Homo sapiens: one gene and its partners. The protein of the gene in region 1 purifies or fractionates together with the protein of each later gene. This does not show direct contact. Each region holds a gene or a part of one and is shown on either strand. Other genes may lie near its edges.

What was found.
Region 2: the proteins of PNKD (region 1) and PRMT9 purify together in Homo sapiens (affinity purification with mass spectrometry; 3 studies listed by BioGRID and IntAct, with this or other methods). This does not show direct contact.
Region 3: the proteins of PNKD (region 1) and CAMK1 purify together in Homo sapiens (affinity purification with mass spectrometry; 2 studies listed by BioGRID and IntAct, with this or other methods). This does not show direct contact.
Region 4: the proteins of PNKD (region 1) and ARFGEF3 purify together in Homo sapiens (affinity purification with mass spectrometry; 2 studies listed by BioGRID and IntAct, with this or other methods). This does not show direct contact.
Region 5: the proteins of PNKD (region 1) and TBC1D15 purify together in Homo sapiens (affinity purification with mass spectrometry; 2 studies listed by BioGRID and IntAct, with this or other methods). This does not show direct contact.
Region 6: the proteins of PNKD (region 1) and NUP85 purify together in Homo sapiens (affinity purification with mass spectrometry; 2 studies listed by BioGRID and IntAct, with this or other methods). This does not show direct contact.
Region 7: the proteins of PNKD (region 1) and PPP4R3B purify together in Homo sapiens (affinity purification with mass spectrometry; 2 studies listed by BioGRID and IntAct, with this or other methods). This does not show direct contact.

Annotation. Positions count from the first base shown.
Region 1 is NC_000002.12:218,339,821-218,344,094, forward strand, and holds part of PNKD (probable thioesterase PNKD isoform 1 precursor), read left to right. Parts: coding exon 1-78; intron 79-208; coding exon 209-321; intron 322-907; coding exon 908-966; intron 967-1,713; coding exon 1,714-1,806; intron 1,807-2,090; exon of another isoform or gene 2,091-2,160; coding exon 2,161-2,324; intron 2,325-3,679; coding exon 3,680-3,766; intron 3,767-4,274. UniProt on the Homo sapiens protein: Probable thioesterase that may play a role in cellular detoxification processes; it likely acts on a yet-unknown alpha-hydroxythioester substrate.
Region 2 is NC_000004.12:147,680,868-147,685,799, forward strand, and holds the start of PRMT9 (protein arginine N-methyltransferase 9), read right to left. Parts: upstream 3,297-4,932; 5' UTR 3,121-3,296; coding exon 2,932-3,120; intron 1-2,931. UniProt on the Homo sapiens protein: Arginine methyltransferase that can both catalyze the formation of omega-N monomethylarginine (MMA) and symmetrical dimethylarginine (sDMA). Specifically mediates the symmetrical dimethylation of SF3B2.
Region 3 is NC_000003.12:9,756,257-9,760,131, forward strand, and holds the end of CAMK1 (calcium/calmodulin-dependent protein kinase type 1), read right to left. Parts: intron 3,495-3,875; coding exon 3,416-3,494; intron 3,320-3,415; coding exon 3,232-3,319; intron 3,031-3,231; coding exon of another isoform or gene 2,931-3,030; intron 1,591-2,930; coding exon 1,473-1,590; coding exon of another isoform or gene 1,366-1,472; coding exon 1,283-1,365; coding exon of another isoform or gene 1,261-1,282; 3' UTR 1,091-1,260; downstream 1-1,090. Other genes in the region: OGG1 (N-glycosylase/DNA lyase), read left to right, coding at 215-365, 511-560. UniProt on the Homo sapiens protein: Calcium/calmodulin-dependent protein kinase that operates in the calcium-triggered CaMKK-CaMK1 signaling cascade and, upon calcium influx, regulates transcription activators activity, cell cycle, hormone production, cell differentiation, actin filament organization and neurite outgrowth.
Region 4 is NC_000006.12:138,164,400-138,168,673, reverse strand, and holds part of ARFGEF3 (brefeldin A-inhibited guanine nucleotide-exchange protein 3), read right to left. Parts: intron 1-4,274. UniProt on the Homo sapiens protein: Participates in the regulation of systemic glucose homeostasis, where it negatively regulates insulin granule biogenesis in pancreatic islet beta cells. Also regulates glucagon granule production in pancreatic alpha cells.
Region 5 is NC_000012.12:71,891,296-71,895,569, reverse strand, and holds part of TBC1D15 (TBC1 domain family member 15), read right to left. Parts: intron 2,820-4,274; exon of another isoform or gene 2,765-2,819; intron 2,349-2,764; coding exon 2,246-2,348; exon of another isoform or gene 2,151-2,245; intron 1,773-2,150; exon of another isoform or gene 1,771-1,772; intron 1,246-1,770; coding exon of another isoform or gene 1,195-1,245; intron 885-1,194; coding exon 687-884; intron 1-686. UniProt on the Homo sapiens protein: Acts as a GTPase activating protein for RAB7A. Does not act on RAB4, RAB5 or RAB6.
Region 6 is NC_000017.11:75,215,400-75,219,673, reverse strand, and holds part of NUP85 (nuclear pore complex protein Nup85), read right to left. Parts: intron 3,921-4,274; coding exon 3,851-3,920; intron 1,490-3,850; coding exon 1,368-1,489; intron 1-1,367. UniProt on the Homo sapiens protein: Essential component of the nuclear pore complex (NPC) that seems to be required for NPC assembly and maintenance. As part of the NPC Nup107-160 subcomplex plays a role in RNA export and in tethering NUP96/Nup98 and NUP153 to the nucleus.
Region 7 is NC_000002.12:55,546,467-55,549,656, reverse strand, and holds the end of PPP4R3B (serine/threonine-protein phosphatase 4 regulatory subunit 3B), read left to right. Parts: 3' UTR 1-2,365; downstream 2,366-3,190. UniProt on the Homo sapiens protein: Regulatory subunit of serine/threonine-protein phosphatase 4 (PP4). May regulate the activity of PPP4C at centrosomal microtubule organizing centers.

The DNA of each region.
Region 1 (4,274 bases):
TCTACCGACAGCAGCTGCGCAGGGCTCGGAATCGCTACCCTAAAGGCCACTCGAAAACCCAGCCCCGCCTCTTCAATGGTGAGCTCTGACTGCCCCGGCCAGCATCCCCCATTCTGTGCCCCCACCCTCCCCGCCTGCTCCCCTTCACATACCCCAGCCCCTGGGCTCCCTGCCTGTTACCCCGCCCACAGCCCATCTCTGTCCCCAGGAGTGAAGGTGCTTCCCATCCCTGTCCTCTCGGACAACTACAGCTACCTCATCATCGACACCCAGGCCCAGCTGGCTGTGGCTGTGGACCCTTCAGACCCTCGGGCTGTGCAGGTGAGGGGAGGGCAGGGAGCAGGGGGTGCCTGGAGTCACCTTGGGGACTGGCAGTTTCGCCTTGCTAGAGAGGGCTGACCCTTGTCCGTCTGCCCGTGGGATGTGTCCCATATGCTCCATGTTCACACGTGCACATGCGCACACATAGCCTGGGGAAGGGGGGTACAGGGCATGGCTGGGCAGAAGGGGAGAGCAGGAGTGGGGGATGCAGAGCCAGAGGGCTGGGGGTGTTGGCCCAGGACTCTGGGTCTAGTGAGTTTCCAGGCTGGCTTTCACTCCCATTGGCCCCCTTCAGACCCCCTTTCTTTCTGTCACCTCTGTCTGTCAGTATCTGGGTCTCTCTGTCTTTCCCTCCCATTCCTTATCTCTCTGTGTCTGCCTCTCTCTATGTACAAGTGTCCCTCTGCCTCCATGTGCCCCGTGCTTCACATTCCTGGATCTCTCCCCTCCAGCTCCATCCCTTTCCTCTGCTTCATCTCTCCATGCTCTCCTCTCCTCTCCACCAGCGCCCACACTCCTGGCTCTTGCTGCTTCAAGTGCCTCTTGCATCCTGCTCCCCAGTCTCCAAACCTCCTCTCTCTCGCAGGCTTCCATTGAAAAGGAAGGGGTCACCTTGGTCGCCATTCTGTGTACTCACAAGCACTGGTAAGGGGCTCCCGTCTTCCCTGGCCCACCCTTGTCCCAGCTGGGCTTGCCAGGACTGGGCCCATTGAGGACGGCCGGGGCCAGAGATCAAGAAGTCAGTACGGGCCGGCACCCGCCTTCCTCGTGAAGTCACCTGGACACCAGCAGGGAGGGAGGAGAGGGGACAGTCTCCCACCACTCCATTGATCAAGCTTCTGAAGCCCCAGAGGGCAGGGCAGTCATTTCTCTTTCATTTCATGGGCATGTATTAGATACCTACTGCACACTGGGCATGGACAAAAGTTATGACTCTTCCATCAAGGAAATTCTAAGACCAATAGGGGAGGTAGCCCTGTATCAAAGTATATAACAGCGGAGGCAAGAGGGTTGGGAGTTCAAGCCCAACCTGGGCAACATAGTGAGACCTTGTCTTCAAAAAAGAAGTATGTGATATTTAGGTAACAGTTGGCACAGGGAACAGGGATGGGAGGCCCAGGCACGGTGTGATCAGATCCACTTGGAGAATTGAAAGATGATGACCTGAGCTGAGGGTTCAGGAAGCTCGGCTGGCATTGGCCAGCTTGAGTTGTTGGGGGCGATGTTCTGGGCAAGGGAACAGCTTGAACAAAGGCCTAGAGGTGTGGACAACTTGGCTTAGTCCAGAAGCCACAGCCCCAGCACTTAAAGGCCTGGAGATGCTGTGGTAAAGAAGGGGGCTTAGGTACAGTTGCCCCTCGAAGCCCCCTGCCTGTCTCTGCTGTCCTGCAGGGACCACAGTGGAGGGAACCGTGACCTCAGCCGGCGGCACCGGGACTGTCGGGTGTACGGGAGCCCTCAGGACGGCATCCCCTACCTCACCCAGTAAGTCCCTGACCTAGGCAAGGGATGGCCCTTCCATGGGCCCTTTCCCCCACCCCCAGCCTTCAGTGAAGTGTTTCAGGGGTATCAGCAGGTGGATCTTTGCCAGTGCCCTTCCTGGCCCAATCCCAGCCTATCTGAAGACTGGCACTGCCCATCCCCCAACTGATCCAGCCATAGTCCCCAAAAGAGGAAAGGGGGAGGGTTCGGACCTGAGACCCGAGGCACTGGGGTGACTTCTTTTGTATGGAAGCCCACTCTCTTGTGAATCACCCAGCCCCTTGGGCCTGGGATGGGGACAGGGATCAGCATGGCACAGATCCAATACCTTCTGTCCCCTGCTCCCTTGTTCCCCAGTCCCCTGTGTCATCAAGATGTGGTCAGCGTGGGACGGCTTCAGATCCGGGCCCTGGCTACACCTGGCCACACACAAGGCCATCTGGTCTACCTACTGGATGGGGAGCCCTACAAGGGTCCCTCCTGCCTCTTCTCAGGGGACCTGCTCTTCCTCTCTGGCTGTGGTGAGTTTCCCCGAAAGAGAGAGGAGCTGGGAGAGGAGGGAGAGACAGAAGCCAGGGCAGCCACAGTCCCATGGAGAGCACTGAAGCCTTAGTTTTAGCACAGATGTTGCCGTGGCAGTTACTTCCATCTGTGTTACTCAGATTGGTTTTAATCCTTGAGACTTCCCTTGGGGCACCTTGGGAGGCTGAGGCAGGAGGATCACTTGAGGCTAGGAGTTGGAGACCAGACTGGGCAAAATAGCAAGACTGTCTCTACAAAAAAATTTTAAAATAGGCCAGGCGTGGTGGCTCATGCCTGTAATCCCAGCACTTTGGGAGGCTGAGGTGGGAGGATCACCTGAGGTCAGGAGTTCAAGACCAGCCTGGTCAACATGGTGAAACCCCGTCTCTACTAAAAATACAGAAATTAGCCGGGCATGGTGGTGCATGCCTGTAATCCCAGCTACTAGGGAGGCTGAGACAGGAGAACTGCTTGAACCCGAGAGGTAGAGGTTGCAGCGAGCTGAGATCGCGCCACTGCACTCCAACCTGGAAGACAGAGTGAGACTCTGTCACAAAACAGAAAAAAAAATTTAAATAATATAAATAATATAGGCCAGGAGCAGTGACTCAGGCCTGTAATCCCAGAACTCTGGGAGGCCAAAGCAAGTGGATTGCTTGAGCCCAGGAGTTCAAGACCAGCTTGGGCAACATGGTGAAACCCCGTCTCTACAAAAAATACAAAAATTAGCCAGTGTGGTGGTGAGCCCAGGAATTCAAGGTTGCAGTGAGCTATGATTGTGCCACTGCACTGCAGCCTGGGCAACAATGAGACTCTGTCTCAAAAATAAAAAAGACTTCTGCCAGCTGCGGGACAGAATGGGAGAATGTCTGTAGCTGAGTAAAGCCCTGCAGGGAATTAGTTTCCCCTGGGTGGAGACTGGTTCTCTGATACAGTGACTGGCAGGACTAGGTTATGAAAAGTTAAGAACAGCTAGGTGAGTGGGTGGGTGAGGATCACAAGTCCCAGGCTGCATGAAATCCCAAAGGGCAGCCTAGGCGAAGAAGTGTTCCGTGGGAAAGAGCAGCCCTGCGTCTACCAAGCCTGGGGCCTGCAGCCCGAAGATTCCACAGCCCCTCCCTTCAGGTGTCACTGTGTGCAACGGAGGCCTCGGATGGGCTTGGTCAGGGGGTGACCAGTTGGGCCCAGTTCCCAGTGAGGAGGGAATAGATGCCTGGGGTGGGTCTGGAAAGTGCACAGTCAGGGCTGACGGCCAGCCAGAGCATTACAAGCTGGTTCCCACCTGTCTGGGTGTGCCTTATGCCATATTGTGTTATCCTGGCACCTTGTGACATACCCTCCAACCCCCACCCAGGGCGGACCTTTGAGGGCAATGCAGAGACCATGCTGAGCTCACTGGACACTGTGCTGGGGCTAGGGGATGACACCCTTCTGTGGCCTGGTGAGACACCCCCTTACTACTCCCCATCCTCCAGCCCCACGCTCAGCCTGGGACAAGGGCCTTCCCACCCCCTCACTCCCCTAGAAAGCAGGCCAGCCCAGTTCCTGGCCCAGAAGCGACACAGCTCCACCTCTAGGGGTAGGGACAGAGTTCTGGCCTCCCTTCTTCCTGGAGTGCTGGCTCCGTACCACCTCTGCTTCTCACACTACCTTCCCCTGCCAGTCAGCCTTCAGCCTCTTGGGAGCCTTGCAGGCCCCAGGGCATTCCAGAGAGATGTCTAATTGTTCATAGCCTTAGCCCAGAACAGAAAATAGCCTTTGCTTATCTGGGGAGAAGTCAGTAAATCCACTCTGCATGTAACCATTGCCTTGTGGTGCATAAAAACATTCACAGATATCTGTTAATCCTCAGAACATATATTCATTCATTCATTCATTCATCAAGTACTTTATGTGCACCTAACACATACCAGGCTCTGTTCCAGGCACCAGGAACACAGCAGGTACAT
Region 2 (4,932 bases), on another chromosome or scaffold:
TCTAGTCAAGACCTTCTCTTCTGAACCTCAGACTCATAGATACAGCTTCCTATTAGTCATTTCAACCCGGCAATGGATCTCCAGCCATTGCAAATGTAGTCCAACTCAAATATTTCCTGAACAATCCTTGTGCAAAGAACTGAAGCAACATAAATCTTGTTCTTATCCTCACAGAGGCCCTATAGAGAGAAATTTAATTTTGGAAAAGTTCAAAATGTTCTACACTGAACTCATCATACTCCTCTGACACAGGCTATAAGATTAAGACACCACTCAACCTCAAACCACAAAGTCACCTTATAATGGTACCTTAACTCCACATACACTGTTTCAAACCTAGCCAATGCTCTCTCAATATCTTTAAATCTGTTACCTCCTCTCCATTCCCACAGTTACAACCTAATCTGGCCCTTGTAACCACTTGCTGGACTACAGCAACAGCCTTAACGCTGTCACTCTAATTCCAACTGCATCTCCCTCCATCCATTCTCCATGCTGCAATACTGTGGAAAGAGGGAAAGCTTTAGTCATTAAAACATTTTAAATCATCTTCACATATTTTATACAAAAGCGTTGATATTTGGAACTGAATCTTGAGGGAGTTTACTAGAGAGACAAGGATAAGAAAGGAGATTCTGGCCGGGCACGGTGGCTCATGCCTGTAATCCCAGCCCTTTGGGAGGCCAAGGCAGGCAGATCACCTGAGGTCAGGAGTTGAAGACCAGCATGGCCAACACGGTGAAACCCCATCTCTACTAAAAATATAAAAATTAGCCAAGCACGGTGGCGAACACCTATAATCCCTGCTACTCAGGAGGCTGAGGCAGGAGAATTGCTTGAACCCAGGAGGTGGAGGTTGCAGTGAACCGAGATCGCACCACTGCATTCCAGCCTGCGTGATACAGTGAGACTCTATAAAAAAAAAAAAAACCCCGCACAGATTATATGAAATGGATCAGAGGGTCTACAGATAAGTGGCTTGGTGTGGCCGGAGTTTGGGTATGGGGAATAGAGTAGCAGGCAATGAGCATTTTACAGGGGGCCCATACAAACAAACACAGACTTTGTTCGGCAGGAAACAGACTAGTTGCTTACCCTACTGAATGTCAGGCATTGCACTACAAATTTTAAATATACTTTTTTATTTTTTCTTTTTGAGATGGAGTCATACACTGTCGCCCAGGCTGGAGTGCAATGGCACAATCTGGACTTACTGCAACCTCCGCCTCCCGAGTTCAAGCAATTCTTCTGCGTCAGCCTCCTGAGTAGCTGGGACTACAGGCACATGCCACCACGCCCAGCTAATTTTTTATTTTTATTTTTTTTTCTGAGACAGAGTTTCGCTCTTGTTGCCCAGGCTGGAGCGCAATGGCGTGATCTCGGCTCACCACAACCTCTGCCTCCCAGGTTCAAGCAATTCTCCTGCCTCAGCCTCTCGAGTAGCTGTGATTACAGGCATGCACCACCACGCCCAGCTAATTTTGTACTTTTAGTAGAGACGGGGTTTCTCCATGTTGAGGCTGGTCTCGAACTACTGACCTCAGGTGATCCACCCGTCTCTGCCTCCCAAAGTGCTGGGATTACAGGCGTGAGCCACCGCGCCCGGCCTAATTTTTTAATTTTTAGTAGAGACAGGTTTTCACCATATTGGCCAGGCTGGTCTCAAACTCCTGACCTTGTGATCCACCCGCCTCCGCCTCCCAAAGTGCTGGGATTACAGGCCTGAGCCAGCACACCCAGTCTAAATATACTTTTAATACCCAGTAAACATTTTTAAGAGAGGCTGCGTCCCTGTTTCACAGAAGAGGAAACTAAGAAACAAGTAACTGAGGAAAGATCACTTGAGTTGATCCATTTTTCTATTGCTGCCTACCAAGAGAAGCAAACTGTATCTCAACATATCATCTCCTCCTCAAGTAGGACAGCTGGTCCTGAAATTTACACTAAGTTTACATGAACTACAAACATCTAGACGCTACTGACATTTAGTGGGTAGAGATCAAGGATGCTGCCAAACATACTGCAATGCACAGGACACCTCCCCTCCCCCATAACAAAGAATTATCCCATTCAAAATGTCAATAGTGCTGAGGTTGACAAACCCTCAGTCTAAATGAAGCAAAGTAATTGCAATTTTAAGTTAAATCATTTTTCGTAATTTAGATTCTAAAAGTACTTCAAAAAAGAACAGCATTTCAACAGAGTAATTGTTGCAAATAATCCAATAATTGAAGTTTAAAGAACGCATCATTAAATGATAATCACTTTAGGCTAATTACACACTTTATTCAACTAGAGGCCCACTATATTCCTACTACACACAATATAACAAATCCAAAAGCCCTCAAGCCAGGGCATGCTTAAATTAGATATAAGGAGAAGAGGATCACGTGAGACCTCATTTCCAATTCGAGGGCCTTTAAAATTTTAAACGAGATGAAAGTTTTGAAACTGAGAAATGACAACATTTGACTTTTGTTGCAAAAAGCTAGCTATGTTGACACAGACTGCAGGAGAGAGCTCAGTTGAGAGCCGACTGCAACAGCCGGCAGATGACTGAAGCTCGAACCAGGGTAGTAAAGGGGAAGATGGTGAGAACTGGTAAGATTCTGGACATATTTCGAAGGTGAAGACGGCAGGATTTTCCTCTGGGCTGGTCGTAGGTGTGAATAAACGAAAGATGTCAAGGTTGAACAGTAAACATTAATAGCAAACACCCAACCAAGCACCCTAGCCCCTCCGCCTTTTTTCTTTTCTTTTTTTTTACGAGGACGTTGGATCGGCCAGCAAGTGAGAAAAAAGGGCCCTAAATATTAACAGCAACCACCCACCCAGGCACCCTAGCCCCTCCGCTTTTTTTTTTTTCTGTTTTTTTTTTTTTTTTTACGAGGACGTTGGATCTGCCAGCAAGTGAGAAAAAAGGACCCTCACCTTCACGTCGTGTTTCAGCTCCGGCGCCAGGCTGAGCACGAGGAGGTAGTGGGCATAGGCAGTGCCGAAGTCCTGGACGCCCAGACAGTGCTCTGCGCTCTGCAAGGACCGCGACACCAGCTCGTCCCGGCCGGCTGCCCCAGCGCCACCCCCGGCGTCTCGGCGGGACCTGGGCCGCGAGTTCGACATGGCAGTCACCACTTGTATGGCCAAAGGGAAGATATTTTGTAAACGTAATTAGAAAACTCTCTCGATGCTACACTTCCAGGGACCAGACAACTGCTCAAAAAACAGCACAGCAAAGTTACCCTCCGCCGCGGGTGAACTCGCCAACCCCAGCCCAGGCGGAAGCTCCGCCCCGTCCTGGCCCCGCGGGCGGCGCAGACCGTGACGCATACCCCACTATTGCGCACCTGGCCAGCGGCGCACGCTACGCGAACGTCAGCGCGCCCGACGTGGGCACGTCACTGCTGCCCATTCCCGCAGGAGCGACCACTGTGCGTGAGCATAGGAGAACGTCTGTGGCAGGACCTGTCCGGTCTTGCGCCCTTTTTTTTTCCCGGCTGAAAGCAGAGCTTTCTCTCCCTCTTGCACTCCGGGAGTGTGTGGCTTTCGACTGCAAGACCCTGTTGTACAGACCCAGGCAGCGCGAAGCGCCACCCGCTCATGAGGGACGGTCAAGCATTTGTGATGATGCTTAAGACATTTTGGATCGTGATGCACAAAATTTCAAGACCTGAAAGAACCTGGAGATAACAAAAGCATCTCAGACGTGGTAGAGGAAATGCTTTCACAGGCATTTCAAATCATTCTCACAAAACCTGGCTAGGTGGACCTTTGGATCACACTCGTCTTAATGATGGCAAACGTGGTATCTTGAGAAGTGACTTGCTGGAGGTCACACAACCAGCTAGTGGCATAGGCATGGTTCAAATCCAAGTTCTCTGACCACCTATCTGTTCAGTTATAAGATGAGCTTAGGGGTTATTTCACTGTTCGTGTCTTATCACTGTATAGTGTTTACATTAATACAAAGTTTTTCCACATTCAAGTGTGGCCTCTAAGATACAGATTCGAAACTCAAAGGGAGGGGAGCATAGTTATTACGGCTGAAAAGTTATTTTTGTCCCCATTTTCAAATTCATTAATGGATAATATCTTAAATCGAGCATTTTGCATATCACACTAATACATTTTGAGGGCTCCTCTAATTCTCAAAAACACGTCATGCATTTTTGCCTTCTCTTCTGATCCAATTATCTGAACTACCCTTTTTTCTGAGCACTCGCCTGTGTAAATCCTAATCCGTTTTTCAGGTTCCAGCTCACTACATTGTGAGCTATTCTTAATCACTTTTGTGACCTTTGCACCTAGCGGATTATGATGCAAAGTAAGGACTTTGATTTTTTCTTCTTTCTTTTCTTTCTTTTCTTTTTTTTCTTTTTTTTTTTTTTTTTTTTTTTTTTTTTTTTGAGACAGAGCCTCACTCTGTCGCCAGGCTGGAGTGCAGTGGTGCGATCTCGGCTCACTGCAACCTCTACCTCCCAAGTTCAAGCGATTCTCCTGCCTCAGCCTTCCGAGTAGCTGGGATTACAGGCATGCACCACCACGCCCGGGTAATTTTGTCTTTTTAGTAGAGACAGGGTTTCTCCATGTTGGTCAGGCTGGTCTCAAGCTCCTGACCTCAGGTGATCCGCCCGCCTCAGCCCCCCAAAGTGCTGGGATTACAGGCATGAGCCACTGCACCAGGCCAATTATTTGCATTTTTTCGTGGTTTATCTATAACTTCAAGATTTTCTGTACATAGAATAGGTCATTTGAAAAAATGGAATGACACAAATAACATGGAACATCTGGTCACCTTAAGAAACTGGAATTGGCAACAGCCTTTCATGCTAAAAACTCTCAATAAATTAGGTATTGATGGGATGTATCTCAAAATAATAAGAGCTATTTATGACAGACCCACAGCCAATATCATACTGAATGGGCAAAAACTGG
Region 3 (3,875 bases), on another chromosome or scaffold:
GCACCAGTGCACTCCAGCCTAGGCAACAGAGCGAGACTCCATCTCAAAAACAAACAAAAAAAAAGTGTATTCATAGATAGTATCTGTTGATTGAGAATATAGAACAACAGTAACCCCAGAGTGAAGGAGAAAGCAGCCGGCTTTGGGGCTATAAGCAAGATGCTGGCCACATGCTGCCCTTCTTCCACAAGGGCTCATTCTGTGTCTGTCAAAGGTGGCTGACTGCATCTGCCTGATGGCCCTAGACAAGCCCCAGGCTGTGCCCGTGGATGTCCATATGTGGCACATTGCCCAACGTGACTACAGCTGGCACCCTACCACGTCCCAGGCGAAGGGACCGAGCCCCCAGACCAACAAGGAACTGGGTGAGGAAAGTGGGCTGCAGGGGCTGGCAGTGGGCTGGGATGGTAGAAACTTCTCTCTCTCTTAGTCACCTCTCCCTCAGACCCTACTTCTGTTGATGGGTCACAGAAGGGGTCAGATAACTTAGTCTCATCACTTCTGATTTAGGAAACTTTTTCCGGAGCCTGTGGGGACCTTATGCTGGCTGGGCCCAAGCGGTGAGTGTACCTAGGTGTCCTCCCTAGGTTTCCTCTCCTCCAGCCCAGACCCAGTGGACTCTTCCACCACCGCCCCAGGTGGCCCTAAAGGACTCTCCAGCCACCCCTGTCCCAACCCCAGTGGATTCTCATTGCCTTCGGCCCTGTTCCCCAAGGACTCTTCCACCTCCCAACACTGTCACTAGTCTCACCAGCCCTGACCCCAGTGTACCCTCCTCCCCACACAGACTCCACCCTCCTACAGGTGCTGTTCAGTGCCGACCTGCGCCAATCCCGCCATGCTCAGGAGCCACCAGCAAAGCGCAGAAAGGGTTCCAAAGGGCCGGAAGGCTAGATGGGGCACCCTGGACAAAGAAATTCCCCAAGCACCTTCCCCTCCATTCCCCACTTCTCTCTCCCCATCCCCACCCAGTCTCATGTTGGGGAGGGGCCTCCCTGTGACTACCTCAAAGGCCAGGCACCCCCAAATCAAGCAGTCAGTTTGCACAACAAGATGGGGTGGGGGATATTGAGGGAGACAGCGCTAAGGATGGTTTTATCTTCCCTTTATTACAAGAAGGAACAATAAAATAGAAACATTTGTATGGAAAATGCAGTGAGGAGTGGTAGGGAAGCAGGTGAGGAGGGGACAGGGCAGAGAAACTCCCGGTTCAGGGAGGGAAGGGGAGCAGGCTGCCCCCAAGCCCTCCCACGCAGAGGATCATGACCCGAGGTCCAGGGCCCTAGAGCTGGTGGGGCAGTGTGGGGGACAGTTCTGTGCCCGGCTCCACGCAGCAGTCTCGACAGCAACAGCCAGCTGCCGGCCCTGCATGGGAAGACAGAACAGAGGTGGCCGCAGGGGCAGGCCCTCCACTCCAGCCCGGGTGCACCTTTGTGGACCACCCATGCCCTTCTGCAGAGCCCGCTCCTCACCCCCAGCCACTGGTGTCAGCAGCTCCCCATGGCTCGCCGTCTGCCCCTGCCCCTCCTGGCTGGTGCCCAGCTGCAGTTTCCTCATGTGCCGCACCACAGCCGTGGCATTGAAGGCTTGCTGGCATTGAAGGCATTGAAGGGAGAGGGGAGAAAGGACTTTTGAGAGAGTCAAGTCATGGGGCAGGGGCGCAGTGGGATTCTTGCAATTGTTCTGTTATTTTCATTCAGGAGTTATTTTATTAATTCCCCTAAAGCCCCCCAAAAACCTCTACAAGGCTTTATTATATATTTACACACACACACGCACATATGTTAGATGTATGTGTATCTATATATATAAATAGAAACATAACTATAATTCATATTAATATGTAATAGCAAACACTATAGCACTGTATGTCAGGCACTGTTCTAAGCACTTTACGTAGTAATTCATTTAATCTTCATGAAAGTCTTTGAGGTAGGTACTATTATCATTTTCAAAGGAGGAAACTGAGGCACAGAAAGCTGAAGTAACTTGCTCAGGTGTGTCTCTATTCAATATCTCCACCTAGGTGTCCCACACACCCCTCAAATTCACCATGTCTAAAACTAAAACCATCCCCCCAAAACATGTTTCTGTCCCTGTGATAACCATCTCAGTCATGGTACCACCACCATCCATTCTGTTCCCAGCCACAGTCTTGGGCCAGCCCTTGACATCTCTTTCCCCCAACATCCATTGCATCGTCATGTCTTGTCAGTTTCACCTCCTAAATGACTCCTGGATCAACCACTGTTCTCTGCCCCCTGTTGCTGCTACTGTGGTTCCAAACCCTTACCATCTCCTGCCTGTATCTCTGCCACAGCCTCCTAATGCGTCACCCAGTCTTTACTCCATGCCATTCTCTGCATCCTGAGAGCTCTTTCTTTTTTTTTTGAGGTGGAGTCTCACTTTGTTGCCCAGGCTGGAGTGCAGTGGCGCGATCTCAGCTCACTGCAACCCCCATCTCCGAGGTTCAAGTAATTCTCCTGCCTCAGCTTCCCAAGTAGCTGGGATTACAGGCACGCACCACCATGTGTGGCTAATTCTTTTATTTTTAGTAGAGACAGGGTTTTGCCATGTTGGCCAGGATGGTCTTGAACTCCTGACCTCAGGTGATCCAACCACCTCGGCCTCCCAAAGTGCTGGGATTACAGGCGTGAGCCACCATGCCTGGCCCTGAGAGCCCTTTCTATGCAGCAAATACTTGCCTAAGATTCTTCTGGGGCTCCTCAGTGCCCTCAGGATCAAGTTGGTGCTCCTCTGTGGCATATGAGGCCCTAAGAGGCCTGGCCCCTTACCTGCTTCTCTAAATTGGGCTCCTGCCTCTCAGTCCCCTCAGCCCCTCCAGTCTGGCCAGGCTTAGCACTTGCACTTCCCGGAATGGCTATAGACATTATTCCGCTATGCCTCACTAATTCCTACTTAACTGACAGCTCTGTCAGGTCATCACCACTTTTATGACCTTTCTCGGACCCCATAGGCTGGATCAGATGCCTCCTGAAGAATTACAGACTTCTTCCTCTAGACTTGGAGGTGAGGGACCCTCTCTGGAATAGAGAAGGTGTTGGGAGTGTTTGTTGAATGAAAGAGTGAATGAATGAAGTCCTTCAGTAAGGATCCCTAAGCAGTTACTGTGTGCCCAGTGTGATGCCAGGTGCTGTGCAAGCTGAGCCTGGGTAGGGATGGGGAGGAGTCCTGGGGAGGCTGGGACCAGAACTAGGGATATGGACTCACCTTCCACTTGCTCTTGGCAAAGTTCTTCTTGATCTGCTCACTCACCGACTGGTGGATATTCTTATCTAGAGCTGTATCTCCTGCAATCCTAGGATGGGGTTATGTGGTGGGTTGCCTATGAGGGCAGAAGCAGACCTGAGGGCCCCAAATCCCGCCCCAGCTCACAGGTTGTGTGAATTCTCACCATGGGTGCTGCAAGGCCTGCTCACAGGTGAATCTTTTCTCTGGGTCCTTCTCCATCAAGTGCCGGATGAAATCTTTGGCTAAACCCCCAAGACAAAAGCAAAGATAATGACAGCATGGTACTGCCTGTGTACTCCCCAAGAGCATACCCACTCCCTCAGGTCTGGCCTGGCATCAAGACAAAGAGGCCAAATCAGTCCATGCCCCACCCCACCCAACCTATGCTCTTCTTCAGGCCCTCCCACCCCGTGCCTTCCAGCTCTTTCCTTTCTCTCTTAAGAAAAACATATGGCCGGGCACAGTGGCTCATGTCTGTAATCCCAGCACTTTGGGAGGCCAATGCAGGTGGATCACGAGGTCAGGAGTTCAAGACCAGCCTGGCCAAGATGGTGAAACCTTGTTTCTACTAAAAATACAAAAAAAATTAGCCGGGCATGGTGGTGGGCGCCTGTAATCCCAGC
Region 4 (4,274 bases), on another chromosome or scaffold:
CTTCCCTGACTCTGTCCTGCCACTTTGGTCCAAGCTGTCACCTTCTCTCACTTGGATGACTGTACCAGCCTCTGTTCTAGGCTTTTAGCTTTTGGGCTTGCCCCTGAAGCTGCAGTCTCTGCTTAACACAGTATCCTGAGAGACCCTGTCAAGACCCAGATGAGAGCATTTCCTCCACCCCAAATGACTCCCCATCTCATCCTTAGAGAGCCCAACAAGGACTTTCATGATCTGGTCCTCACTTCCTACTTCTCTCCCGTCGCTCCAGCCCCCTGGCTCCTTGCTCTTTCCCAAAGCCATCAGATGTTTTCCCAACTAGGAGCCTCCCTTTTAGTAAGGTTTTCCGTGAATACCCTATTTAAATGGCAACTCCCTCTTTATTCCAAGTACCTCCTATCTTCTTCACTATTTTATGTTTTCCCTTTCTTAGCTCTTATCACTCTCTTTGCTGTCATGTGTATTTTATTTATTTATCTTGATTACTGGCTGTCATCTCTCCAAGAATCTGTAAACTCTTGGATCTTTTTGCATGTTTTGCTCACCATGTTATCCCTAACACTTGGAACAGTACCTGGCACATAGTAGGTACTCACTAAATATTTGCTGAATTAATGAAGTAAGAGGGAGCACAGTGTAGCTGAGTAACTGAAAGAAGATCAGTGTGGCTGAAATTCAGAGAGCAAGGACCCCTCTCTCTCATGAGGGTCTCAGAGGGGGATGACCCTCTGTCTCATGAGGGTGGCATAGCACAAGGCTGTGGGGCAGGTAGGAGCCAGGCCATGTACGGCTGGACAGAACACACCAAGGACTTTTGTTTTTATCCTAATGGGATGCTATTCAGTGTTTTAACATGGCATGTCATGAAAAGATTGGGGTTTCCAAGGTGACACTACTTGGGAAAAAGAACTAGAGCAGACAAGGAAGGAGCAGTTAAGAGGGTGTTGCAGAAGTTCAGATAAAAAGAGAAGGCAGCTTATTCTGGAGAGCTGGCAACAGAGGTAGAAAGAAGTGAACAGGCTTGACATATATTTAGGAGGTAAAAATGAGCAGAGCTTGGGTGACGGACTAGGTAAGATGGCAAATTACAGAAATGTATCAAGGATGACTCTAGATTTCAGGTCAATGCAACTGGACAGGTGATGACATCAACTGATCATTTAGAAACACCAGAGGTGAGTGAGGTTGGGCAGTGAGGTAGAGGTGGGGAAGAACACACAGTCACTTTGAGCCTTGTTGAGCTGAGTGCCTGCAAGCCATTCAGGTGGAGATGTTCAGCAGGTAGCTAAGTTGCGGGGTGTGCGTTTCAGAGCACTGGTGTCGACTAGTGATATAAACACGGGCATCACATTCTCAGAAATGGAGCTGAAGCTGTGGGTATGTGTGTGTTCAACTCCAGAAGAGCTGGGAGTAAGAGATGAGGGCTCAAAGCTAACCCTTGAGAAACTCAAATATTTACAGCTGGGGACAGAATCTGGCACTAGCAAAGGAGACAGAATGGCTCAAGAACCAAGATGGAGCTGGTAGGGTGTGATCATAGAAGTCAAGGTAAAGCAGGTGCCCAGTTGTGTCCAGTGTCACCAGGAGGACCTCTGAGATGGGAATGAGAATGGTCTGCCAGCCGAATGGCTGTATGTTACTGTTCTTCAGTAACTGTGAGTTGGTGGGATGATGGAGGTGAAAGGCAGATGACAAAAAGATGAAGACAGAGTAGAAGGTGAGAACACAGATACAATTTCTACACTTTTTAAGAAGTTTGGCTGTGAAGTAATCACCTGTGGCTGGAAGAAAAAGCAGATGGGTAGATAGAGAGAAGGGTGCTGGTTGGATAGATGTTCCCTCTTCCCCTACTTGGCCTTCGTACCTCTAGTTTCTTTCCCCGCTCCTCCATTTTCCACATTCATTCTGTATAAGGCCCCTGATAGATATAAAATACTAAAAGTAGGGCTTGGTTGCTTCCAGCTCTCCTGTTCTGCAATTCTATTTCATCCCACCACAGCCTAGCTTGCAAGCCCCCAGGACTGCCAGTTTCTGAAGTTCTTTCTGCCTTTCCCCAAGCCAACCCTTCATCCAATTCATTCCTTTCTACTCCCTGGCCACGCCATTCCTCACTAACAAAAACAACCAACCAGATAACACTAAATAAAGAGAAGATACATACATATGCCTTATTAGTTATTCTGCAGCCATTAACACTGATTTTCAGAGAAGTGTCATGACAAAGTAGACAGAGTAGAAGAAGATGCTAAAGTTAAAAAACACATGACAATATGCCATATGCGGTATGACCTTTTGCAAAGGGAAAGACTCCAAAATGTCAACAGTGTTATCTCCGGATAGGGAGACTGAAGATTATTTTAATTTTTTCTTTATGTTGTTCCATTATTTGCAACATTCTAAAGTGAACATATATAACTCTTATAAATAGAAAAAGATGAATATTATTTAAAACTCAAACAAGTAGTTAAAGTATTGATTTACTTATTGAACATCTGCCTTCCACTATAGGTGCAGAAGCAACCAAAGAAGCATAAACGGCAGTCCCTGTGCTAAAGAGCTCACTACTCTGCTGACATGTATTGTTTTGATTGACGAGTATCCATTCCCCTGGCTTTTGAAGAAGCATCTTAATTTTACTTCCAGGAAGCCATTTTTCCCCAGCTCTGGATTTCAGTGGAACTTGTAGCCTAGGCCTAAACCAGTTATTCTACTTCATTCTTTGACTAGAGGACTGGTTCAAGGATACACTCATGAACCATCAGGACAAAGAGAACAAGGGAAACCAAGGATCAGGCAGGAGTGACTGGAGAAGTCCAGCTTTCTTGATATGGTCTAAATATGGTGATGATCACCTATCTCAAAATGATCTGAGTGAGGAATGATGCCTCTCTCCTTTGAGGGTCTCAGAGTCGGATGACCCTCTCTCCTATGGGGGTCTCAGTCTCAGTCTCTCATGAGTGTCTCAGTGGGGAGTGACCCTCTCTCTCCTGAGGGTCTAAGTAAGGGATGACCCCTCTCCCATGAGGGTCTCAGAGGAAAATGACCCCTCTCTCCCATGAGGGTCTCAGTGGGGAATGACTCCTCCCTCCCATAAGGGTCTCAGTCTCAGTGAGGGATGACCCCTCTCTCTCATGAGGGTCTCAGAGGGAGATGCCCCTCTCCCCCATGTGGGTCTCAGAGGGGGATGACCCCCTCTCTCCCATGAGGGTCTCAGTGGGGAATGACCCTCTCTCCCATGAGCGTCTAAGTGAGGATGACCCCTCTCTCCCATGATGGTCTAAGTAGGGGATGACCCCTTGCTCCTATGAGGGTCTCAGAGGGGGATGATCCCTGTCTCTCACAAGGGTCTCAGTGTCGGATGCCCCTCTCTCTTATGAGGGTCTAAATCAAGGATGATCTCTCTCCCATGAGGGTCTCAGAGGGGGATATCCCCTCTCTCCCATGAGGGTCTAAGTGGGGGATGACCCCTGTCTCGCACAATGGTCTCAGAGGGGGATGCCCTCTCTCTCTCATGAGGGTCTCAGACGGGGATGCCCCCTCTCTCTCATGAGGGTCTCAGAGGGGGATGACCTCTCTCTCCTAGGAGGGTCTCAGTGGGGGATGCTTCCTCTCTCCCATGAGGGTCTAAGTGAGGATGACCCCTCTCTCCCATGATGGTCTAAGTAGGGGATGGCCCCTTGCTCCTATGAGGGTCTAAGTGGGGGATGACCCCTCTCTCATGAGGGTCTACGTGAGAGGTAACCCCCCTTTCCCATGATGACCTAAGTAGCGGTTGACCTCCCCATCACATGATGGTCTAAGTGGGGGATGAGACGTGTTTTCCTGAGATGGTCTAAGTTTATTGTTGCCTCTTTTCATGAGATGGTCTAAATGTGTTGATTCATGAGCCCAAAACTGTGGAGACCCACGCAGAGCATGTCAGTCAACCCACAAAGAGCAGGACAAGATCCCTGAAACAGTGTCTAATTCCTAAATCACAGCTATTCTTGTAAGGGGTATTTTAGTTAAAGGAGTAAATAAATCCCGTTTTGTATAGCTCAGCTTAAACTAGCTTTTTTGTCTCTTGCACCCAACATATTTGTCAATTACACTGCCCGTAAGAGCCTACCTGTGCACACAATCAACTATTATCCAAAATAGTAGGTACTCTAAGAGAGTCATCAAGGCAAGGATCTGAACCCAGACAAACAACTTATCCTATTGAGGAGCTCAGGGAATGTTTCCTAAACAAGATGGACCTTGCCAAGTCTGAAAAGGGAATTCCCTACAGAAGGACT
Region 5 (4,274 bases), on another chromosome or scaffold:
TATTCCATTAATCATATTCTAAAAATTAGCTTTTCTTCTAAAGTTTGTATTTCTCAGAATTGATTCATGACCCACTAGCTTCACTCGGCATTTTCTATAGTGTTTTATTCAATTAACAGATGTTGGTAATTTTAAAATAGTATTTGCAAGATAAACCCTTTAATTAAGCACTAAAATTTAGATATTTATAGTTTTCTAACTATGTACAAGCCTAGAATTGTAGCAAATTTAAATCTTACTGAGCACATATAAAGATCTGCCATAATTCAGGCCAAAACCCATCTTACTTAAAAAAGGAAGTATTACATGAGAATAAAAGCCCTAAAAGTAGTATCCTGACTAGCTGTCTCTGATGCCTATGAGAAAACATGCAAGTAAGGAACAGAACTAAGAGGTAATAGGAAAGGTTCGCTCCTCACTCTGCTATGCACCCAATGAAACAAACTTCATTATCAAAAGGTAATCAAAGAAGAGAGATCCAACATTAATCAAGAAAGAGTATAAGATAGAGAACAAATGAAGAACTTAGTGGCAGGACAAGCACTCATTGTCAGATATACTAGCAAAAAGTTGTTAAGAACAGATTATGGAAAGAAGCAGATATCACCAAAATTAAGTTTCTATTTCTATAGTACATGTTCTCCTGTTAAAATATAAGAGCTATATTAATACTAATCTTTACTCACTCTTGTGATGACTTCAAATCCTGGTTCTTCTTGTTGATTTATCTTTAGACCTGGAATAGCATCACTAAGAAAATCTGCCATTTCTGAAGGTGGTCGTTGATGTGTAGAGGGATCGCTGCCTCTCAAACTGTCAAAAATGTAGTTTGTGACTTTGGAAAATCCTATCATAGTTGCCGTATAAGGGTCCTTTTTAATTTTCTATGCAGTAGGAAGAAAAATATTAGCATTATTAACTCAAATAAAGAAAAACGAATACTCCATCATGAGCAAAAAAGCAAAGCTTTTTAAAAGAAAAGAAATCAGGACTAAAACAGAGTGTTCTAAGATTATCTTAAATTTGTATTTTCTTTCTTCAAAGAAAAATTTAAATTTTCTAAGCCAATCATTTCATTTGGTTAAAATAGCATAATAAATGACAAGTTAATGCTACTGATTGAATTGCAGATAAACAAATGATTTGCAGGCTTCACTCAATCTGCATACATCAGAAAACATACGCAGTGCTTACTTTCCAGTGGTGAATGGCCCACAACAGCTTTCTTCTGTCTAGCAGTCCTGCCTTCATACAAAAAAAATATTTCTTGAAGTGTGTACCACCATGCTATTCTGACACAAAATATTTGATGGCTAAATTTAAAAACTCATATTTAAATATTAGTTGACATTTTAATCTAATTATATGAATAGTAAATCATGCCAACAAGAATAATTTATTCTGGGACAGTGCTACCCTGGAAAACAGCAAAAGGTTTTTCTACTGTTAAGTGCCAGGGTAACTTCTGAAGCCCAAACTATTTGCTCATTCATATTTAGCAAAAACAGTTATTTATTAAATAATTCTTTTCACAATAAGTAAAATTATCCTTTTATTGTCCATTTTAAACAGTGTTTAGTTCTCTCTCTCATCCTCTTTCCTAAAGTTCCCTCTATATCTTATTAATCTTTACATCTTCAAAACCAGGAAAAGAATAGCTGGGACACAGCAAGCACTCACATATTTGTTAAATGAATAAGTGAATAAATAAATAAATGAATAAACCATCTCATTACTTTACATAGTCATCTGAGTGATAATTAAATTTACTTCTGCCTATTATTAAGTGCACATTTTTAGCCAAATGTAAGAACAGTACTCAAATATTCTTAGGGGAATAAGATTGTCATGACGTCAAAACAATCTACTTAAATTCAAACCAGATTTTTGCCTAAACCGATCATTAATGAATTCAAACTGGCCTACTCTGTGATCCCTGGCCTAATCAATAAAAGTTATGATACAAATCTACTGATGTCTAATTTTAGTATTATAATAAACTGAGAAATTTCCTTATGAGTAACTAAGAACCAAGGAAGCCTCTGAGTCTTGCAAATAACATGAAAACTTATTATTGTTTCTGTAAAATTAGAGAATAGTTCCAAAAAGATTACACACACACACACACATATCTATGTATATATATGTACCTGTCTCATTTTGCATACTCTCTGAGAAGATGAGAAGTACAGGGTATATAAAATAATGCAGTCAGAATAATACAGGATAGATTTAAGGAACATACTTGTATTAAACCATATGCTGGCTCATCAAGAAGATTTTCAAAAGACTGTGAAAGACTCTTATTCTGACAATTCACAAGAAGTGTTCTTTTATCCTGTGGAGATCTATAATAAAAAAGAGGATTTGTAGAAAATACTAACACACTGTATCAATTACTACATGAACAATTACTAACACAAATGTTCCTTACCAAAAAAAAAAAAAACCCAAAATATTTTAACAGTTTTCCATTAATACATTAGCAAATATTTAGTAACTATTTTAAAGGAGCTTCAAAACTACATGAAACATAAAATACAAAATTAACAAATACTAAATACACTGTATATAACGTAAATAAAACAAATATAAAGTGTATTTTTATTCCAGGTAAAGCCAAAAGGATTAAACTGGAATGAACCTAAATTCTTCTCTAGAATTATAGTAGAAAACCATTACAAGATAGCTGGCTTTATTATCATAAAAATTAAAGAAAGCCAAAACAGACATTAGGAGTCATCAGTATATAATATTTACATACAGAAAATATGTCCTATTTTGAAATCATTTCCACCTTCATTCACAGCTTAGTAATACTGCAATATAAGATGTTAAAAATGTAAGCTATATTAGTTATTTGATAAAGATCATTAATCATGCTAACCATAATTACAAACACACACATATGAACATATTTTAACAAGATTATTATGAATGGTTGGGTAATACTATGTTTTTAGTTCTTGCTTATTAAACTCTAGAAGCAAGTCTCTTCACATTTCTTAGTAATGACAGAATTTAACAAAATGTTTCCAAAACAGACATCTAATTTCTAGTCATCTGACAAATTATCCAGTCTTTTTTCTATTTAGTGAGTTTTATGACTTAGTCAGTTCTAATAAATCTACAAATTTTCTATGTTTAAAATAAAAATTAAATGTGTTATTTTGCTGCTATACACCTCCTGTTTATTATAAATGTTTGAGATAAGATCTTTAATAACAGTTATCCCTTCTCAATTCTAACATAACAGGATGTAACAGTAATGCTAGAGTGGATATGAAATCCAAAACAGGATCTTATATTCTTACACAGTCAGGAACAGCACTCGATCTGCATATACAATAGTAGCTAATAAGCCCCTTGGCCTTTCAAAAGGGGCTGAGGTTGAGTCATTTGACATAGGAGGGAAAAAAAATACATTTTAAAACATTTACTTTTCTGAATATTTTGAGGGGTCATAATTAATAGGCAGACTTACAGATTCTCTCACAAGGCATTTTTTAAATGATGGACTTTGAAATGTAGCATCAGAAAAGAAAAGTAGCTAATAAAGAAACAAAATTTTATTCCTAGCACAGTGCTGCTGGCACTGCCATCATTTTGTTTCTAACAATAAATTAAGTCAAATTATTTCTTTAAAACCCAAATAAAAAATGCTCATGAAAGTCAAACCACTGCCTATACATATAAAAGAGGAACAAATAGGCAACTTTCAGCTATCTGGGTTCAGATAACTCTATGGCTCCATATCTTAAACAGTGGCCACTAAACTGGAGATCCGAAGATGAAATGACTGCCTTACCAACAAGCAACCACAAATATTTTTTAAAAAGAAATTCCTTCTTTTCTTTTCTCATAACTATTGTTGTGTGATGGAGGGTGGAGGAAGCTCTAAGAAGGAGGGAAGATATGAAGAAATTAAAGACCTGACTGCTCCAAAGGAAATCAACAAAACACTTAAAAAGTACATCAGTCAAAGGACAAGTAGTATACTGTTACACCGCTAGGTAATTGCAGAGCTCACCATAAGGAAGACTGGTATTCCAAAATATTACCAGAATGTTTCCACCTGCTGGGTCACCACACTGATTTAATCTATAAATATATATTCTGGGAAGTTGATCTCTCATGCTAACATTATTCAAGACTTTCAAACTCATTGCAGCAGTAAGATGAACTTTTAATGATGCTAACCCAGCAATTCTATTACAGCCTGCTAAACAATTTGAAGAAAACTATAGTCTAGTATCACAACTATAGAAGCATAT
Region 6 (4,274 bases), on another chromosome or scaffold:
GGATATAAACTCCATAAAGGCAGGAATCTTTGCCTGTTTTAGTCATGGTGTCTCCTTGGTGCCTTGCAAATAGTAGGGACTCAATAAATACTCAGTGAATGACCAGGAATGGTGGCTCACACTTGCAGTTCCAACACTTTGGGAGGCCAAGGTGGAAGGATTGCTTGAGCCCAGGAGTTCAAGACCAGCCTGGGTAATACAGTGAAACCTCACCTCTACAAAAAATAAAACTAGCCAGGCGTAGTGGTGTGCGCCTGTAGTCCCAGCCACTCAGGAGGCTGAGGTGGGAGGATTGCTTGAGCCCAGGAAATCAAAGGTGCATTGTGCCATGATCGCATCACTGCACTCCCGCCCAGGCCGCAAAGCGAAACCCTGTCTCTAAACGACAACAACAAACCTTAGCGAATCAATCAGAGACTCAAACATTTGGCCCACTACTTCCTGTGAGCCACCGTGCCGGGCCGAATTCCAGGTTTTCTTTTCTTTTCTTTTTTTTTGTCCTCACAATCTGTTCCCAATTTCAGGCTTTATAAGTTTAGTTGACTTTCCATTAGCCCAGTCAACTAGCGATCTCCTCCCTGCCACCTCCCAATTGGGTCAGTCAGCAGAGGTGAATGGAAATACCTAACACATAGAAAATACATCCATATACACATATACGACATGCTGACTTCGAAACTGATGATCCAAAGTAATGTGCAAGCTCATTTACATCCAACCCTGTATGCACCCCAGCCCCTGTCAATTGGTTTTATATCATTACCCAGGCATGGTGGTTGGCACTTGTGGTCCCAGCTACTTGAGAGGCTGAGGTGGTAGGACCGCACAGGAGGCGGAGGTTGCAGTGAGCAAGATCAGGCCACTGCACAACAGCCTGGGGAACAGAGTCGGACTATCTTTTCTCTTTTATATTTTTATTTATTAATTTGTTTTGAGATGGAGGGTCTCACTTTGTTGCCCAGGCTAATCTCAAACTCCTGGGCTCAAGAGATTCCTGACTTGGCCTCCCAAAGTGCTGGCTGGAATTACAGGCATGAGCCACCGCACCCAGCCGAGACCCTGTCTCAAAAAAAAAAAAAAAAAAACGGTTTTGTATTCCTTTTTGTGTCTTCTCTTCCTTAGATCCACAAAGAAATCAAATTTCCTTTTACCCTGGAAAAGTCTTCAAAGCATTATTTTTCTTACATGGTACCTCGGTTTTAGACTCTCCCATAGAGCAGGGAAGAAAAGATCCAAAAGAGTCTCCATAGTAACAGACTCCAAAAGCCAGCCTACTGCTGGAGGCTCAGTGGGTGTCCTCAGACCCACCCGGCAGCACCAGGGACAGTAGGACACATGGTGGGAGGTGGGGGCCCGGCCTGTCTTACCAAGTTCCAGAAGCTGTCATGTTTGCTTGGATTCTCACTGCCCAGAACATCTGCCGACAAACTGTCCACCTCGCACACATGGAGCCGGACCCAGTCAAGGAGATGGAGGAGGAGAGGGCCAGCTGGGAGGAGAGACTCTCATCACACACAAAAGCCTCAGCTTCATCTGCAGCAAGTTCCTTTATCCAAGGAACAGAGAACTTTAAGGCAGACAAGCTGACTACATAGGTTTATCCCTTTTAAGCAGTCACACACATGGTCCTGAATGACAGACTGTGCTAGGAAAAAGCAAATGCACTTTCACCAAATATTACTTCTGTGCCAGGCAGCTCCATCTTTAACTGACCCCAGAAAGGGGTGAACATGGAATGCAGACCTCACTACCCCACACTCCAGATTCTTCACAAATACTTAATAGCTACATAAGTAATGGCCGTTTAGGAACCAACAATGACTAGATAGCAAGCAGCCAGGTATGCAATGATGATAAAAACATAGGGCCAGGGGGCTGGTGGTGCACACCTGGAATCCCAGCACTTTCGGAGGCTAAGGCAGGTGGATCATCTAAGCTCAGGAGTTCAAGACCAGCCTGGACAACATGGTGAAACCCTGTCTCTACTAAAAATACAAAAATTAGCCGGGCGTGGTGGCGCATGCCTGTAATTCCAGCTACTCAGGTGGCTAAGGCAGAATTGCTTGAACCCAGGAGGCAGAGGTTGCAGTGAGCCAAGATCGCACAACTGCACTCCAGCCTGGGTGACGGAGTGAGACTCTGTCTCAAAAAACAAAACAAAACAAAACATATGGCCGGGCATGGTAGTTCATGTCTGTAATCCCAGCACTTTGGGAGGCTGAGGCAGGCAGATCGCTTGAGCCCAGGAGTTTGACACTAGGCTGGGCAACATAGGGAGACCCCATCTCTACAAAAAAAAATAAAAAATTAGCCGAGCCAGGAATGGTGGCTCACGCCTATAATCCCAGCATTTTGCGAGGCCAAGATGGGCAGACTGCTTGAGCCCAAGAGTTCAAGAACAGCCCGGGCAACATAGCGAAATTTCCTCTCCACAAAAAATACAAAAATTAGCCGGGCGTGGTGGTGCAGGCCTGTGGTCCCAGCTACTTGGGAGGCTGGGCAGGAGGATTGCTTGAGCCCAGGAAGTCGAGGCTTCTGAGCTGTGATCACGCCACTGTACTCCAGCATGGGTGACAGAGCAAGACCCTGTCTCCCCTCCCCCAGCATATACACACAAAAAATTAGCCTAGCATGGTGGCACGTGCCTGTAGTCCCAGCTACTCAGGAGGCTGAGACAGGAGGATCGCTTGAGCCTGGGAGGTCCAGACTGCAATAGCTGTGATTGTACCACCACACTCCAGCCTAAGTGACAGAGTGAGAACTTGTCTCAATCAATCAATAAAAATAAAATGAAATAAAATGGCAGAGTACAGCCAGCACTCCGTATCCATGATGTAGAACCTGCAGATACAAAGAGCCAACTGTAACCTCCTCAAAAATCCACTGGAGAAGGGAGGCCTCTGAACAACCAACTCTAATTTCAAGTTCCTCACTTCTTTAGTGAGAGTATGAATAAAATGCTAGGGCTACACAGAGGTTACTACTCATTTATGGAAAATAGCAAACATAAATCCTTAAAAGAAATGCAAAAAAGCTGCAGCAGATCCACAGAGAGCTCATACAGGCCATGACACTATACTGACCACAGTTTAATTCAAGATCAACAGAAGGCTGGGCACGGTGGCTCACACCTGGAATCCCTGCACTTTGGGAGACCGAGGCAGGCAGATTACCTGAGGTTGGGAGTTCGAGACCAGCCTGACCAACATGGAGAAACCTCATCTCCACTAAAAATACAAAATTAGCCAGGCGTGGCAGCGCATGTCTGTAATCCCAGCTACTCAGGAGGTTGAGGCAGGAGAATCGCTTGAACCCAGGAGGTGGAGGTTGCGGTGAGCTGAGATCACGCCATTGCACTCCAGCCTGGGCAACAAGAGTGAAACTCTGTCTCAAAAAAAAAAAAAGATCAACAGAAAAATTCCCATTGGCAGAGTTCATACCCATTGGCAGAGTTAACACACAGAGTTGCCCTGTCCCAATGATTCATGACAGAATTCCCAATGTGACTTTGCCTCTCACCACCTAATCCTACCCCACATTCATAAAACTTTCTTAAGCTTGGCCAGTCCATGATGTTAACACTGACACCCCCTTTCACACACTAGTTTAATATTTCTCAGTACTTGTCAGGGTTTAGGTTTCTTGGAGGCACTCTGCATGATTCTTTTTGCAGCACCTGACAAAACGGTCAGGTTTCTTTGGGTGTTTTCTAACGACTTCCCGTGGTTATAATGATGGAAAGAACATTCTCAGGAATAAAACACTCATCACCATGCACAGGAAAGATGAGGAAAGAGCAGAAGATGGAAGGGGACACCTATGAGATTATGGTGAGATATTCCATGCCTACCTGGGGCCACTTCAATAAAAAGAATCTCACACAGGTTCCAGATGAGCTCCATTGCTGACAAAATGGAGACCTAAGGAAGAAATGGGGACAGGTTTCACCTGAAATGATTCCTGAGCTTTGCTCTCAGAGCCAAGGGATAAAGCAGACTTTGACTCATATGACAGTCATTCCTTAACCCAAAGGTTACTGCAATCCTACTGGAGGATTTCCCACAGGGGAGCCAGCGTGAGGATGTTAGGTGGTGGGATGGAGACCAACACTATTTTGTTTTAGTGGTTGTGATTTTATTTTACTGTGCATTACAAAAATAACTTGGCCAGGTGCAGTGGCTCATTCCTGTAATCCCAGCACTTTGGGAGGCCAAGGCAGGTGGAATGCTTGAGTCTAGGAGTTTGAGACCAGCTTGAGCAACATGGCAAGATCC
Region 7 (3,190 bases), about 160 Mb from region 1:
AGCTTCTCAGCAAGGAAAAGTCACAGGTTTGGGGACGGTTTAGGGGAGGGGAAAAGGTTGATATAATAATGCAGGGTTGCTCCTCGGGGTGTCGATCTAGAAACAATTTTACAGAACTTCAGTTGTAAACTCAATAACATTACTTGTATAATGGTGCTGGCCATGTTGTTGTTTTAATCAGTTGCCTCTTTTTAAAAGAAATTTTTATGGAAAACACATTCAACTATCATTAAAAAAATGAAGTTAAGCTGTTGGGACCATTTCTTTAAGATTTAACAAAAGTTCAGCCTTTTAGGTAGTTGAAGGGAAGTACACCCCGTATTCAGCACATGTTGAGTTTTCTACACCAGGAATTTTCAATATGTATATTGATGAAAACAAGCTCAATTCAAACTGGACAGTTTTAAGATAATGTTAAAATCAGCACTTTTAGAGACAACGAAGGCCAAGAATCAGTACAGTAGTATTCCAAAATGATTTTCTCTAGAAATTTGAAAGTAGATCGAACAGAATGTTGTCAACCGCCTACCAGTACAATCTTTTGTGGAAGATACTTTGAAATCACTTTCTACTTTGTTAGTAAAGTTCTGTCTTTCCAGAGCTGCAAGTTTTAAAGTGTTACTTATACAGACCAACCAAGAATAGTGCTGAATTAAGTGGCATTTAGTATCTAGAAGCCATTTTGATCCAAGAAGCTACTTAAGTGTCAAAGTCAGCATGCAGCACATGTAGCTTTTCTGTAAACAAGGGTGTGATATGAAAGCTGCTTTTTTAAGAAGAGTAAAAGCACATTCCATATACGTAAGTGAATTTTAAAAATAAATTGAGGCAAACAGTTAAGTTTTATTTTTAGAGCAACAAGTTAACTGTAAATATTTTAATGTTAGTTTGCTCATCTATGATCTGAGATCATGCCGAAGTGAGAAAAATCTCCCCAAAATACAATTTAATGCATTGGGAAAAAAAAACTTTAACAGTAATTCCAGCCACAATCTTTAGATCACCCTTGTAATGTGTTACGGGTCCATTTTTCCTGGAATCGTTTAATCTAAAGCAGTTTCCCCTGTTTTGGAGATTTTGTAGTTAATTTTAATTTTGGCTATTGTTTGGAAAAGATGAGCTGTCTGTGTAGATATGAAGTATAGTTTTTTCCATAAAACAGATGTTTATTTTGTATTAAAAAATACCACTGTACTTGTTTTACACCATTTGTATACATGTGGTGATATTAATGCTAAACTGTAAAATTCAGGAATTAAAATGTGACCCTGTAATTCCATAATTGATGTTTGTGTTTGGTTTGTTGTAAATATAAATTAACTCCATTTTGAGATATGTCAATTTTACAGTATCTTTTAAAAGCCAATAAAATTATCCATAAATATTTATTATAAACTGCTAGATCATACCCCAATTTTAATGAAATAATTCTAAACAAATGCGGGTCAATGGCACTTTATCAGTGACTACTTATAGAAGGTAAGCCTTGGGGAAATCATAGCATCACAGTATGGAGCTTTTCTCACCTTTTCAATTAAAGGTGTACATATAGTAAGAAAGAAAGACCTTCCACCTCATAAGGCAGGTGACTCAGGATATTTTAAACTAAGATCAGTAAAGTTCCCATCCACTTTCTTTGAATCATCAAATTTTATCGAGACCCATCTCTCAGCTTTTAGTAAATTTCTTCTTAAAATAAGCCCACATGTAAAACACTTTCCTAGTTACTTTTTGTTTGTTTGTTTGAGTCTCGCTCTGTTGCCCAGGCTGGAGTGTAGTTGCACGATTTCGGCTTATTGCAACATCCGCCACCTGGGTTCAAGCAATTCTCTGCCTCAGCCTGAGTAGCTGGGATTACAGGTGCCCGTCACCATGCCAGGCTAATTTTTGTATTTTCAGTAGAGACGGGGTTTCACCATCTTGGCCAGGCTGGTCTTAAACTCCTGACCTCACAATCCACCCGCCTCAGCCTCCCTATCTCTGTATCTTATGAAGACTTCCTTTTTCTTTCTGAAGAGCTGCCATAAGTCTTAAACATTTAAATCATCAGAACCTTTTCTTGTAGCAGAAATGTGAATGTTTTCTTGAAGTACAGGTTACGGTTTTCATGGTACAAGTGCTTACCTACGACGATAAGAGAACAAGGCTTAAAATATCCCTCAAAAGAACAATTGTGAGAATTCCATGTTAGCGGCTGTCTTTAAACGACTACCCTCAGGCAGATCTGGGTTTTTATATCTTTATCTTCATTCAGTGAAGCAAGCCAAAAGCCCACATTTGTATGCCTTAGGTCTTCTTAAAATGGTATCTGTAAACATGTGTCCAATATAAAAACTATTTTTAATAAAAAGTTACATGAAACAGATTTCTGTGTTTTAATCACTAGCATTTCCTCTTAGCCATCTAGTGATGAAAATATAACAAATGTAAATACTGGTTTTCCTGCAGGGGAAAGTTTGGAATTGTGTAACTGAAATGAGTAAATCCTGTTACACTAATTTTGGTATCCTTTTTTAAAAGTTTATAATGGTAGACTTAAGGAGATAAAATGTGATTATAAGTTAAATCTCAGGAGTATCCTGTACTTAGAAAAGGGTGGACGTGGGATATTACAAGACTGGAAGTTTTTTGTTTGTTTGTTTGTTTTTTGGAGATGGAGTCTTGCTCTGTTGTTGCCCAGGCTGGAGTGCAGTGGTGTGATTTCGCTCACTGCAACTTCCACCTCCCAGGTTGAAGCGAGTCTCCAGCCTCAGCCACCCGAGTAGCTGGCATTACAGGCATGCACCACCACGCCCAGCTAATTTTTGTATTTTAGTAGAGATGGGGTTTCACCATGTTGGTCGGGCTGGTCTTGAACTCCTGACCTCAAGTGATCTGCACCCCCTCAGCCTCCCAAAATGTTGGGATTACAGGCATGAGCCACCATGCCTGGCCTTTTTTATTTTATTTTTTTTATATGGAGTCTTGCTCTGTCACCCAGGCTGGAATGCAGTGGCGTGAGCTCGGGTTCAATGCAACCTCCGCCTCCCGGGTTCAAGCGATTCTCCTGCTGCAGCCTTCCAAGTAGCTGGGATTACAGTTACCCGCCACTACACCTGGCTAATTTTTGTATTTTTAGTTGAGACGGAGTTTCACCATGTTGGCCAGGCTGGTCTCCTGACCTCAAGTGATCCTCCTGCGTCGGCCTCCC